Linked DNA regions of Homo sapiens. The protein of the gene in region 1 purifies or fractionates together with the protein of each later gene. This does not show direct contact. Each region holds a gene or a part of one and is shown on either strand. Other genes may lie near its edges. The genes, in order: CIMIP6 and NEK9.

What was found.
Region 2: the proteins of CIMIP6 (region 1) and NEK9 purify together in Homo sapiens (affinity purification with mass spectrometry; one large-scale study listed by BioGRID and IntAct). This does not show direct contact.

Annotation. Positions count from the first base shown.
Region 1 is NC_000002.12:54,337,369-54,341,190, reverse strand, and holds part of CIMIP6 (ciliary microtubule inner protein 6), read right to left. Parts: intron 1-3,822.
Region 2 is NC_000014.9:75,120,227-75,124,048, forward strand, and holds part of NEK9 (serine/threonine-protein kinase Nek9), read right to left. Parts: coding exon 3,820-3,822; intron 949-3,819; coding exon 893-948; intron 355-892; coding exon 284-354; intron 1-283.

The DNA.
Region 1 (3,822 bases):
GTTTGGAGGGGACAAACATTCAAACCATAGCAGTAAATATTCTGAGAAAGTTCTTCTGTGATAAGATTGTAAAGCATACACAAACACTTCATATCATCTACTTTTGTTGATCAAAAACTTATTTTGCTAATACTCAAGTTACTGGAAAAATGGCTCTGGGATAAGCGAACCACTAGGAAATGGCTGATGGACTTTAATTATTATTATTTGTTATTATTATTTTTTTGAGCCAGGGTCTCACTCCATCACCCAAGCTGGAGCATAGTGGTACGATTACAACTCACTGCAGCCTCAAACTCCTGGACTCAGGTGATCCTCCCACCTTAGCCTCCTGAGTAGCAGGGACTATAGGCATGAGCCACCACGCCTGGCTATATTTTTTTCTTAAAAGCATAATGCAAAGCTAGCCTTAGAGCAGAGAGATAATTTCATCTTTTGAGCAAATTTCTTTTAAACTGAGAATTTTGCCAAAATAGTCTTTGTTTCACAAACATAAAGGAAATAGAGAACAGTTTTTCCTAAAATGTGACTGGTGACTTTAAGGCTCTGCAGTTTGTGAAAGTGTTCTGATGAGTGTTATAAATTGGATGCATCTTCACTTTAGCTGAGTGAAATCTTACAGTCCAAAAAAAAAGGTTGTCTTTCTTGTTTCTGGATAGTCTTCCTTATGCCTAAAAAGTTTGGTTTGTTCCTGGAAGAGTGAAAGTGCTTATGTGCCCATGCAACATGTGCGTGCCCTTTTGGTCCAAGCATTTATTCATAAAAGATTATGAGATTAAGGAAAGACATGGATGGAGCCTCGTCTTTACCTTTGTATCATACTGAAGGGAAAGACTAACAAAAAATTTACTGTTCTGTGTACCATCACTTACATTGGATTGTGGGGGGTTAACACAGTTATTTATGACAAAATAAGCTGGGAAGTTACCTAGCGTGATGGCTTTGTCTAGGCTCTGGGGAACAGATCATATCTTGCAGATTGTAGAGGGGGTTTTGCCTAACTCAAACTTTGGACCCAGAGAGGAGTTATCCCTACCAGTCTAAGGACTGTCTTCTTTCCTGCCCCAGGATGATAGTCACTGGGTTCCATGGTCAGGAGTTGCCTGGAGATTCCGGATGACGGGGCTCCTTCTAACCTGCAGCTCTGGGAAGGCCAAGGGCTGTTGCACTGTGGGTCCCTTAGTCACATTTGGAAGCCAGTGTAAGGCAGTCTCTATGTTATACTCCTAGTATCCCTAAGCTCTCAGAGATGTTTTAGTAAAGATTACCTATTTTCCATTCTTTGAGAAATTAAGGGAGAATCCTCAGAGGAGAAGTAGTAAAAAGCAAGTGAAGTATCCTAGAGGAACTAGTTAAGTGAATGCAAGAGGTCGTAAGCCAAGCTCCACAGCCACAATCGCGTAGCCAAGATGGCTGGTGGTGGTCATCTGTGGAACATAAAATCATACTTTGTGGATTCCCAAGGAAATGTGGGCTTTTGACAAAACCTAAACATAAACAATCGCATTTTGTTGGTAGAGCTCAGTGGCTTTAAAAAATTGAAGTACTATCACAAACACTAGGGCAGCTAAGGTCACATTGGTTACACTGTACCTAAATTCATCTCTATTTTGCTATAGATGCTATGAGTGCTTTAAAAAAATGTTTTTAAGCAGTTCATAATGCACCCCCCCATAAAAAATTCCAAAATTGTGTTCTGTGGAACACTAGTTCTCCAGCATATTAATAGGTGTTATACAAAGGAGTCCACAGTTAAATGACTTTGGGAAATAGTGAGAAAAGCAAAGTTAAATAAGTTTATCACAAGATTTCTCAGAACCTTTATATACCAATGTGAATTGTGAAGCTCTGAGAAAGGTTTATAAAAATACAGCTTTTCCAAAACATATTTGACTTTGCAAATTTATTTTGTTAAGCATGTAGGCAAGGGTCAGTGCTCTGAAAATTAAACTTTTGAAAATACCAACCTAGTATAATCTCCTTTAAAGTACCAATATTTAAAAATATTTTTATTTTATTTTATTTTATTTTTTCTTGAGATGGAGTCTTGTTCTGTTGCCAGGCTGGAGTCCAGTGGCACGATCTTGGCTCACTGCAACCTCTGCCTGCCAGGTTCAAGCAATTCTCCTGCCTCAGCCTCCCAAATAGCTAGGACTACAGGCACGCACCGCCATGCCCATCTAATTTTTTGTATTTTTAGTAGAGATGGGGGGGGGTCTCACCATGTTGGCCAGGCTGGTCTCGAACTCCTGACCTCATGATCTGCCCACCTCAGCCTCCCAAAGTGCTGGGATAGCAGGCATGAGCCACCGCACCCAGCCAAAAATATAAGACAATCAAACCAGTTTTCTTTGGAAGTGACTGAGCTAAAACAACTTACTTTTTTTAGCATCCCCAATTTTATGTTCCTAGGTAGAAATGTACGAAATCTTAAAAATCTTCTAAACAAATAAAACCAACCAATCTCGTCTTGCATCCTAAAGATATTATCTTAGCAAAAACACTTAAAACAACAGGTGTCATTTAAAATATTTAGGCAAGTTTATTTTCTTTACTCTTATTATAAAGACAGCATTACCGTCAACCAGTTTTTTTCTTAACCAGGCTAACCTTTAAAAAGAAACCTGTCATCTTAAAGGAACAGTTTACAAATATGTGAAATATACATTCTTTATTATTTCTTGGATAGTTAGAAATGAGTACATTTAAGTTCATTGTTTTTGGTTTTTATTTTATTATTTTAAAATTTGTTTTTAGAGATGGGGTCTTGCTCTGTTGCACAGGCTGGAGCACAGTGGCACAATCATTGCTCACTGCAGCTTTGAACTCCTGAGCTCAAGCCATCCTCCTGCCTCAGCCTCCTAAGTAGCTGGGACTACGGAGGCTTGCCACCACACCTGGCTATTTATTTATTTATTTTTGTAGCGCTCGGTCTCACTATGTTGCCCAGGAAGGTTTCAAACTCCTGGGCTCAAGTTACCCTCCTGCCTTGGCCTTCCAAAGTGTTGGGATTACAGGTGTGAGCCACTGTGCCCAGCCAATTTTATTTCCTTTTGAGCAGGGTCTCACTCTGTCACTCAGGCTGGAGTGCAATGGCATGAACATAGCTCACTGCAGCCTTGACCTCCCAGGTGCAAGCAATCTTCCTGCCTCAGCCTCTCAAGTAGCTGGGACCACAGGCGTACACCATTACACCCAGCTATTTTTTTATTTTTATTTTTTTGTATAAATGGGGTCTCACCATGTTGCCCAGGCTATGTTTTTAAAATATACACACTCCCTTCCTGCCACACCCAAATCAGACATGCTTGTAACTCAGTGATGTATCTTCAGTCTTTCTCTGTAACTCTCCTCATTCATATTCACTGACAGATTCCCTTATCTGAGCTCTTATTTCATCTCAAACTCACTTTCACCATCTCTTAAAGGTCCAGTGCTAATAATGATTCTACTACTATTCTGTCACCTAGTCTTGATGATAGCAGCTCTTAACACCTTTGTTCATTTTTTTTCCAACATACCTATAGAGTAGGAGTAAGAGAAAATTAGTTGGGATTAAGTTTTTAAACTTTTATGTTTCATATTTCTATTCTCAAACCAGCTTCTTTTTCTTAGTATTGCCAATGTAAGGATGAGTTCAGTGAACAGTTTTAAATTCAACCCTGAACTAGAGCTCAGAGTCATTCATGAGCCTTTGTAAGAAATGTAAGAACTTCACTAATCTGGATTTTGGTACCAAATTAATTTCCCCAGTGTAGGTCTGGTCTAACAATAACAATTGATTTCTTTCTGAAATAATTGGTACGAGAGCATAAGCAAGTG
Region 2 (3,822 bases), on another chromosome or scaffold:
TTCTAGGCTTTACTGATGAATTAACAAACTGAACTCTAAAATTTTTGTCTGTAAAATGACTTCAGTAGTACTTGGCTACTGAGGAGACTCTTCCTAGATCATAAACATGGTTTAACCTCAGGGAGTGAAAATAATATTGCTCATTACTTTCCTTTCCTAGTGATATCAATGGAAAAACTCTTGGCTGCTTAACCAAGAAAATAAAAGTGTTGTTGGGGGGGTATCCACGGTAGGGGCTGAATTGGTAGGGAAGAATCCATCCATAATTTTTTTTACTTCTTACCTATGAAGGATTCCAGCTTTATGGATGCAGCTCACTGCTGAAACAATCTGAAATAGGTACCACACCACCATCTGCAGAGAAAAAATAAATATTTGGATTAGAAACAAAAAGCTCCATTTAAGTAAATACACACACACATAAACAAACAAAACAAAGAAAACTGCAACCAGAAGTTATGATTCAACATGACTTGACATCTCTTCCTTGCAGGTTGAGTAGGCAAAGAAAAGTGAAGGGGTAAAAAACCACAAAAAACAGGTTCCTCATAAAATAGTTCCAATGTCATTATAATATATAGTATGGTAAAGCAGACATGTAGGAAAATTCAGGAAGAATGCAAAGTTATAGAAAACTGGGCATACCAGTACGCAGTAATAGAACCAGGAAAGAAAGCCCACAGAGAATCATGATGTGGAGGTAAAACGTTTAGGAAGCAGCTATAGACAGCTTCCTTGTTAGAGGTTTCCTTTCTCATGAATATCAGAGCCTGGAAGGAGTCTGAACAAAAGGAAAAAAACACTCTTCACTATTGGAAGAGTAAATACAGAACTAGAATGCAAGAATTACAACACTACAATTCTAACTTCCTTCCACAGAAATATGAATTACCTCTTCCTCAAACAACTTGTCCTTCTGACGAAGGATTTTGTCATACAGGTTCCCTCCTGCAATTAAACAAGACACAGATTTGAATTGCTTAATACAGATCAAAGCTTGGCTCCTGTAACAGGTTTTTTTAGGTGACACAAGGAAATGAAGGATTCTGCTTTCTCTCCATAGGCAACTACTTCTTTTGACTTTTCACATGGGCACAAAACTCTTCCCATCTCTCAAGGACCGCATCAGAAATATTCTTCAAAGATCTCCCTCTCTAACACAAGAGGCGTAATTAAAAAAAAGACATTTTTAGAAAAGATGTGAGTAAAGACCATTCTTGTTGTTCCCAACAAGTGAAGTATATTCAAAATCAGATTTCTTTTCTAGAACTCTCCTTTAAGGACTCTACAATATTTTTGTAACAACTCTCCCAGTTGTGACTACTATAACATCTGGATTAGGCTGGGCACATTGGCTCACGCCTATAATCCCAGCACTTTGGGAGGCTGAGGTGGGCAAATCATTTGGGTTTGGGAATTTAAGACCAGCCTGGGCAACACGGCAAAACCCTTGTCTCTACCAAAAATACAAAAAGTTAGCCAGCTGTTGGGGCATGTGCCTGTGGTCCCAGCTAATCAGGAGGCTAAGGTGGGAGGGTCGCCTGAGCGTGGGAGGATCGCCTGAGCCTGGGAGGCGGAGGTTGCAGTGAGCTGGGATCGCACCACTGCACTCCAGGCTGGGTGACAGTGAGAGTCTATCTCAGGAAAAAAAGAAAAAAATTGGGTTACACCTGTGATGCAATGTTTTGTATTTATAGGGTATATATTGACAAATTTTCTACTTCACACCGAAATATTTCCCAAAATTTAGGGTCTACCCCTAGACTGTTTCCTATCATTACTCTCTTTACTAATTTCTTCCTGTGGAATAAGTGTGAATTTACTTCTCTCTTTCCTTTACCAAGTAATACAGACTGCAAGTAATCATGGTTCATCTTACATCCCACCTGCAACTATAACTTACACTTTAGCCCTGGGTAAGTTTTTACAACTTCTTTTCCCCTGCAACTTAATAACTCAGTTTCAATAAATGTATCATTTGTTCCAGTTCTTCCTAACCACAAAAGAAGTTAACTACCTAGGGCTTCTGCTACTTCGAAAATTTTTAACAGAATCTTGTATATGGCATTGATCACCAATGATCATAATATACAAGAGTTTACACAAGGAAGTCGTAAGTGACGAATATGCTGGGACCTCTTTAGCATGCAGTTCAGAAAAGGGCTTTGGAGGTTCTCCTGTGCAATAAGATGATTAACAGCTAGTACAGTATGTAGCAAACACTTTCTACCTACCAAGCACTATGCATGTAATACAACAATCCTAGAAAGTAGGTACTGTTATCAACAAACTTTTTTTTTTTGAGATGGAGTCTCGCTCTGTCACCAGGCTGCAGTGGCATGATCTCCACTCACTGCAACCTCCAACTCCCTGGTTCAAGCGATTCTCCTGCCTCAGCCTCCCGAGTAGCTGGGATTACAGGCACGCGCCACCATGCACAGCTAATTTTTGTTATTTTTAGTAGAGACTGGGTTTAACCATGTTGGCCAGGATGGTCTCGATCTCCTGACCTTGTGATCCTCCCAAAGTGTTGGGATTACAGGCGTGAGCCACCACGCCCAGCTTTTTTTTTTTTTTTTTTTTTTTTGAGACAGGGTCTGGCTCCATCGCCCAGGCTGGAGTGCAGCGGTCTGAGCTCACAAGCTCACTGCAACCTCTGCCTCCCAGTCTCAAGCCATCCTCCCTCCTCAGCCTCCCAAGTAGCTGTGACTACAGGTGCACACCACCCAGCTAATTTTTTGTATTTTTGGTAGTGACAGGGTTTCACTATGTTGCCTAGGCTTTCCTCAAACTCCTATGCTCAAGTGATCTGCTTGTCTTGGCTTCTCAAAGCGCTGGGATTACAGGTGTGCACTGTCCCTGGCCAACAAACTCATTTTAAAATGACAAAACTGCTGGGCATGGTGGCTTAAGCCTGTAATCCCAGCACTTTGGGAGGCGGAGGTGGGCGGATCACCTAAGGTCAGGAGTTCGAGACCAGTCTGGCCAACGTGGCAAAACCCTGTCTCTACTAAAAATACAAAAATTAGCTGGGCGTGGTGGCGCATGCCTGTAATCCCAGCTACTTGGGAGGCTGAGGCAGGAGAATTGCTTGAACCCAGGAGGCGGAGGTTGTGGTGAGCCAAGATGGCACCATTGCACTCCAGCCTTTACTCCAACAAGAGTAAAACTCCATCTCAAAAAAAATAATAATAATAATAAAAATAAAATGAGGAAACTGAGGCACAGAGAAGTTAAGTTTCTTGCCAAGGTTATAGAGCTAGAAAGTAGAGAAACTTGGTTTTAGAGTCTATTTTCTTAACAACTAGGCTATATTGCTATCTTACAAGCAAAATGATGTGAAGAAATCAGGGACCAGATAAATAGGGCCATGCTTTACTATATATTACTTTCACTCAGTTATGATCTTTGGACCACTTTTCAATAGGATAGCTTTAGCTGAAGACAATATAAATAAATATCACCTATAAGATCTTATTAAATACTGTATCAAGTGCTGCCAAGCCACACTCTGGTTAACTAATGTCATTTCATAAAGAAAAACCTTGAAAAATAAAGGTAAAATCCAACCAAAGAAAAGATAGTTTGAAAATGGAACTGTAATCACAAGAGAAAATTTGGGTATGCAGGGGAAAATCCCTCTCCTTATTTCGTACACCACTTCAAAAATTCTCCAAGGCCTGAAAAGTTTCTCTTAAACTCTAGAAATTCATTTAAAGTTTTTATCACTGTATATGTCTCTTCTTATATTCTTCTCCTCAACGTAATTATGAGTCTAAGAAAGTCTTGCTGGAAAAGTCCCACTGAACTCTATCTTACCAT